2 linked regions of the Homo sapiens genome follow. The protein of the gene in region 1 purifies or fractionates together with the protein of each later gene. This does not show direct contact. Each region holds a gene or a part of one and is shown on either strand. Other genes may lie near its edges. The genes, in order: SEC22C and SERPINA12.

Region 1 (4,024 bases):
TTCTCCCTTTTTTTAAAATTAAAATTTCTGTTCTTAGGACGCTTTCCTTCTCTTCCACATACATCCTAGAATGGTTTATTCTTAAGAATTACCCAGGCCAGGTGTGGTGACTCATGCCTGTAATCCTAGCACTTTGGGAGGCCAAGATGTGTGGATCACTTGAGGCCAGGAGTTCAAGACCAGCCTAGGGAACCCCATCTCTATTATAATAAAAATACAAAAATCAGCTGATTATGGTGGTGCATACCTGTAGTCCCAGCTACTTGGGAGGCTTAGGCATGAGAATTGCTTGAACCCTGGAGGTGGAGGTTGCGGTGAGCTGAGATCACGCCACTGTGTTCCAGCCTGGGCAACAGAGAAAGACATTGCCTAAAAAAAATGAAAAAGCATTACCTGATTATGCAAAAAGAAATTTTCAACCCATGAAAATGCATTCATTTTTTAGAAAACAAGTCTCCAAGACCTTGGACATAGCCAGTGGCAGTTTCCTAGAGCTATGTTTTAGGACTGCAGGGATTGTACAGTTCCACCTCATTCCTTCAACTGTGTTCCTGGTTGGATAGCTCACTCCCTCCCTCTGTAGATTGAACCTTTGTCAGATTGATCCATGTTCAGTGATGTCCTTTTTTTAAAAAAAAAAAACAAAGCATTGAACCAAAATGCCGTTTCCACCTTTTGCAGAACAAGAATGGCCCCTTTTATGTGTGATAGTCATACACAAAATACCAGTCACTCTCCCTGCTGTGAGACCTTTCCCTGACTCAGAGATGCTTTGGAAGACATGATAAGGAGGGTGCCCAAGGGAAGAGTGGTGCTCAATGTAGTCGTGGCTCAGGAGAAACCAAAATAGTAAAAGCATGGCTTTCTCTCACCAGCTTGCTTGCCTGTCCTGGCTCCCTGAAGAAAAACTTCACTGGGGGGCCAGTCAGTCACGTTAGGGTCCCCTGTCTGCAGCCTGGCTGTCTGCAGCTTATGTGCAGCTCTTCTTTCTCTACTGCCAACAGCCTGGTCATTTCTGTCTATTTCTTTAACTTCTTTCAGATGTGCCATGCACTGATTCTTCCTGTGACATCTATTTCACTTTCCTTTAATCTTCCAAATCCTCACTTTCGTCCAATAATTAGCAGCCTAACCAGTGGGTCCACGCTTTACTGTAATGAATTCAGTTTAATCAGCTAATGTGAGAGAAATGACACTCTTCATGGAAGCTGTGGGAGGTGAATTTTGCATATGATCTAGTGGCCATTTTATCTCTGATTGGAATTCCTCTTCTGGTCTCATTTCAGTGTTATTTGTACCTGTTCTACAGTCCAGCCAGGACTATGAAGGTGGTGCTTATGCTGCTCTTTATTTGCCTGGGCAACATGTACCTGCACGGGCTGAGGAACCTCTGGCAAATCCTTTTCCACATAGGAGTGGCTTTTCTGTCTTCATATCAGATACTAACAAGGCAGCTTCAGGAGAAGCAGTCTGACTGTGGAGTATGAGGATGACACTGTGATGAATGGATTCTTTGATTTTCTTTTGAGGATCAATCTATGTTTCTCTTTCTGCTTCTCTACTTTACACTCCAGTTTCCATCCTTTTCAGCCAACTGGACTGAAAAACCAGGAATTGGGGATGTTAAACAGTTGCAGTGGAAGTCATGAGGTTGCTTGATACCCAGCCTTGGTTCTGTGCCAAGCATTACTGCAGGATCTCCAGCCAGTTCAGCACGTTTACCTAGGACAGCTGGATCTGGGGGCTCATCCAGAAAGAGCTTTATTGGAAGAGAGAAAGGAAATATTTTGGTCTTTTAAGTTGAATGATACAGTAAACCACTTGATTCAATAACACTGGTTTTAGTCATTGAGAGTTGTCTCCAAGGAACCACTTTAAAATCCAAATCAGCTTTCAGTCTAAACATAACTTGATTAGTTTTTTTTTTCAGAGGGTCAGTACAGGATGAATTAAAAACCTAAAAATATGGTTCATAAATGTAAGCTAGATAAATTTTGTTTACATTTTTTCAATATCTTAGGTTCGATATACCTTTGGAATATTTAATTATATTTTGGATATAAATTGGACTTCATTTAGGGTGAGGGCAAACTTAAGCTGAGAAAATGGTTAAGAAATCTGAGTTTATTTAATTTATATGTAACCTTTTATAGTGGTGGGACTGTTTGGGTACAGAGATGTTTTATATTTATTTGCAGGGTATATCCGAATATTTTAAAAATTAATTGAATAACCAGTACTTCTAGATGATAAGTTTGTCAGCATGAGCAGAAATGAGAATTTCAGGATTACTTACAATTGACCACAACCTGGAGTAGGTGAATGAACATGGATTCAGTGGCACTTTACAGATCCGCTTGGGAGGGGCTGCTGTCATCAGCCTTTTCAGTAGAGCTGAGTGCCTGTTGTTTTAATGATGATGACTACTGTACCCTGTGTACCTGTTCCCAGAGCGCCTCCAAAATTAATTACTCCTCTGCACCTTTCCCAGTCATCTTAATTAGCTTGAGGGCCTCATTTTTTATGAACAAGAGTTAAGTATCTGTTAACTTTTTAAAGCTTGATAGAGATATAATTAACACATACTCTGGAAAGTTACTCTCTTTCACTGTCAAAAAATTGATTGATCACAGTTTTCCAAAATATGGTTCTGGATAAGATCCCTTAGGTTTCCCGAAATTTCAGCCTGGCTTGTTTTGTACCACGCAGGAGGTCATTTTGGGAGTTTGCTCTTTGGATTGTTCTTGGTAGAAGTCTGGAATCTGAATAGTTCAACCACAGTTGCATGGAACACTTTGAGTGTTCAACTGCATTATGTGGTCTTGATAAATTTTTAAAAATCCTATTTTGATAGTTTTTAAAAGTGGAAAACCATTACAAGAGTTGAGTGGATAGGGAATGTAAGAATGTAGTTTTAGAAAAATTCAATTATATTTGGTTATCACTGGTATTGTATTGTTATTGAGCTACCTTGTTATCATTTTAAGAAAAATAAGTTTATATACTGGGAACTATGTTGGGAAAATGTTGCCATAGTAACTTTATTTTTTATAATAGAATTTTCTATTTTTGACCAAACATAAAATATTTGGATATGGGCCAGGCATGATGGCTCATGCCTGTATTCCCAGCACTTTGGAAGGCCAAAGCAGGAGACTCGGTTGAGGCCAGTAGTTTGAGACCAGCCTGGACAACATAGTAAGATTCATCTCTACAAAAAAAAAAATTAGCCGGATGTGATGGCACATGCCTGTAATCCCAGCACTTTGGGAGTCTGAGGCAGGAGGATCCCTTGAGTCCAGGAGTTTGAGGCTTCCATGAGCTATAATCACACCACTGCACCCCAGCCTGCATGACAGAGTGAAACCCTGTCTCTAAAAAGTCTGAATATGAAAATTATATTGGCAGCATACTCAGACATAAACTCCAAAGTTGTCTCTACACTGATTTCACATCTGCATAATTTTCTGCATACCCAGCAGGTGAATTTTCAGTTTTTCTGGGAGACAATTTTGAAGAGATGGTGAAATAGAATGGGAAGTTAAGGAGGGGAGGTAAAATGTTTTAAATGAGAAGAACAAAAAAGCTTTAAAAGTCAATAACACTTTGGGAAGCTGAGGTGGGCAGATCACGAGGTCAAGAGATCGAGACCATCCTGGCTAACATGGTGAAACCCCATCTCTACTAAAAATACAAAAATTAGCTGGGCACGGTGGCTTGTGCCTGTAGCCCCAGCTACTCAGGAGGCTGAGGCAGGAGAATCTCTTGAACCCGGGAGGTGGAGGTTGCAGTGAGCCGAGATCGAGCCACTGCACTCCAGCCTGGTGACAAAGCAAGACTCCGTCTCAAAAAAAAAAAAAAAAAAAGTCGGTAAGAACGGCTTAAAAATGGACTGTTTTCTTTTCCTATGTGGCATTGGGTTGCCATGTAGACCTGTACCCCAGGTGCTTTGGGCATCTGAGCCTATGATCCATATTCAGCAGGCAGTAAAGAAACGGTCCTTGAAGATGAGTCCTTCCTGGTA
Region 2 (2,845 bases), on another chromosome or scaffold:
ATGCAAGAAGACAAAGCAGGTGTCTGCCTTCTGTGCAGGCAGGCCTGTATGGCTTGTGCTGGCCTGCAGGAAATCTCAATGCTATTATTTTTCCCAACATAAAAGCTTCTCTTGACCTCTGCTTTCCCCCAGTTATTCCTCCATTTCGTCACTCCCCCTTTGCAGGTGAATACCATGAAGCAGTTGCCTCTGTTCACAGCCCCTAGTTCCTCTCATCCTCTCCTAAATCCACTCCAGTCCAGCTTCTGCACCCACTTCTCACAGAAAGCTCCCTTCCCAGGGTCCCAAGGGTGTCTGTGTTGCAGAGTGCAGTCAGTCTCAGGCCTCGCTCTTCGGCTGGTTTCTGTCCCCACCTCCTTAAGGCACTCTTCATTTGGCTTCCAGCTCTCCACTCTCACATCACCTCCCACCTCTCCCCTCCTCAATCTCCTTTGCTGGAGACCCCTCTCCTCCTCCAGGTCTCAGAGGTGAGTGTCTCAGGGCTCAGTTCCCAGCCTTCTTTTCTGTCTATACTTACCCCTGAGTGAGCTCACAGGCTAAGAGCTTTAAACACCATCTCTATTACCACGACTGCCATGCTTCCATCCCCAGCCCCTGTTCTCCCCCAAATTCCAGAGTCGTGGATCTTTCTGTTTACCCAGAATGTCCCCAGGATGTGTAATTGGAGCTTAGTGTCAACACATCCAGAATGACTTCCTGATCTGTCCCCAGAGAACCTCCCCAAGCCTGCCCATCTCAATCAGTGGTGACTCCATCTTTTTAGTTGCTCAAGCCAAAAACCTTGGAGTCACCCTGACCACCCTCAAATGCCTCATTCAGTCTGTCAGGAAACTCCTTTAGCCTACAGCAAACCACATCTGGAATTTGGTATCTTTCCGCCGTCTCTGTGGCTCCCAACATGTGACTACCACACTAGCTTCCAAATGGTCTCCCAGCATCAATTTTTGCCCATCCCCACTACACACACCACCACCACCAAGAGTATATTCTTAACAGAGGCAACAGAATGATCCTTTTAAATCCTAAGCAAGACTATGTCACTCCTCTGTTCAAAACCCGACAGTGACTCCCCATTTTATTCAGGAAAAAAAACCCCAATTTGTCTAACTCTCTTGCCTGCCTCAAGGTTTGCTCAAACTTTGGACCAATCCTCGATTCCTGCAAGTCAATCTATTTATTTTTTTCCATAGCACTTACTGCCTTCTGCATACCGCTAGTACATGTATGTAGGCTTAAGTGGTACTTTTTGTTGTGTTGATTCTATCACCTGTCTTCCCTGCTAGAACACACAGTCAGGGGCAGGGATCTTTGCCTGCTCTGTTCATAGATGCATCTCCAGCACCTAGAACAGCACCTGGTATACAGTAGAGATTTAATAAATGTTTGTTGAGTGAATGAATGAGTGGAAAGGTAAATTTGGGAGTCGTTGGGCCTGTTGATGATATTCAAAGCTGTGAGACTGAATGACATGTATGGGGATGGAGTGAAGGTGGAAAAGAGAAGGGGACCAAGGTCTGAGCCTGGAAGCAGCAGTGTCACCGGTAGAGATGGGAGGGGTGGAGCCCGACAGGGGCAGGAGTGGTGGGGAAGGAGGAGAAGCCTCAAGGGGTGGACCTGGAATGCTTCACCTTGGAGAAAGGGATTACCATCACGTGCGGCTCACTGAGAGCTGGCTCTGGGACGTGGGGCTGGTTGTCAACGGTGACTCTGGAAAGAGTTGCTTCCATAAAAAGTTGAGGTCAAAGAGCCGACTGGAGTGGACTGAGGCAATTGTGGGAGGGAGTGGAGATAGCTGCTATAAAAGGAAGAAAAGAAATGAGCTGGAAGCTGGAGAGGCTATTCAGGGCCAAGAGAGATCTCTTGGTGTTAGTTTTTGAGGATAGGGTCACTCTAGCATGAGGCCTCCTCCAGAGGAGGATCAAAGGGGCACTGTTTAAGGATGATGCAGGAGAGAGAGGACACATAGGCAGGAATGAGATCCTTGGGTAGGTGGGAAAATAGGGTGCAAGGCCAGGTGAACGGGAATCCAGGGTCTGCAGGTACCTCAGGAGAGCCTGGGCCCCAGGCTCCGGGCAGGAGGCTGATCGCGGTTCAGCCACAGAGGATGTGAAGCTGCTAGTTGGAGGGCAGGAGGATGGGCACCTGCTACGCACCAACTGTCTGCTGAGTGCCTTGTCTGCATTTGCCTTAGCACCCCTAGTGTCCCGCAGGAGCGACGGTGATCATTTTCCTTCTCACACAAGTGACTTAGAGAGGGAAGGTCACAGAGCTCATGAGAGGCAGAGTGGATTTGAACTCAGTTCTGTCTACCTCCAGATTCTGGGTGCCTTGTTCCCTCCAGTGTCAGGTCTTCTGGGGTCAGGATGGGCTCAGGGCTCAGGCATGGCAGCGACTACAGTGTGGACATCATCAGTGACTGTGGCTGAAGGGGCTCTGAGACGGGGGAACTTGAGACTTGAGAACACTCCCTGTAGAGGGCTCTGGGGCAGGTGTGCTGGGAGGCAGGGACACGGTTCAGAGAGCTTATGGTGTTTTGAAACCAGGGTCCCAGGGTTAAGGAGCCCCTCCTCATTCTGTGGATGGAGAGAGATTGGAGACCTTTGGGGCTGGGAGGACACATGTTTCATTGGTCATGTATCCTGAGGCTTGCCCTGCAACACAACAGGACTTGACCACTCACCCTTGTCGTGTCAATTCCCCAGGGTCGTAGACGTGTCTGTACCCAGACTCCACATGACGGGCACCTTCGACCTGAAGAAGACTCTCTCCTACATAGGTGTCTCCAAAATCTTTGAGGAACATGGTGATCTCACCAAGATCGCCCCTCATCGCAGCCTGAAAGTGG

What was found.
Region 2: the proteins of SEC22C (region 1) and SERPINA12 purify together in Homo sapiens (affinity purification with mass spectrometry; 3 studies listed by BioGRID and IntAct, with this or other methods). This does not show direct contact.

What each region holds. Positions count from the first base shown.
Region 1 is NC_000003.12:42,550,711-42,554,734, reverse strand, and holds part of SEC22C (vesicle-trafficking protein SEC22c), read left to right. Parts: intron 1-1,286; coding exon 1,287-1,487; 3' UTR 1,488-4,024. UniProt on the Homo sapiens protein: May be involved in vesicle transport between the ER and the Golgi complex.
Region 2 is NC_000014.9:94,489,625-94,492,469, reverse strand, and holds part of SERPINA12 (serpin A12 precursor), read left to right. Parts: intron 1-2,702; coding exon 2,703-2,845. UniProt on the Homo sapiens protein: Adipokine that modulates insulin action by specifically inhibiting its target protease KLK7 in white adipose tissues.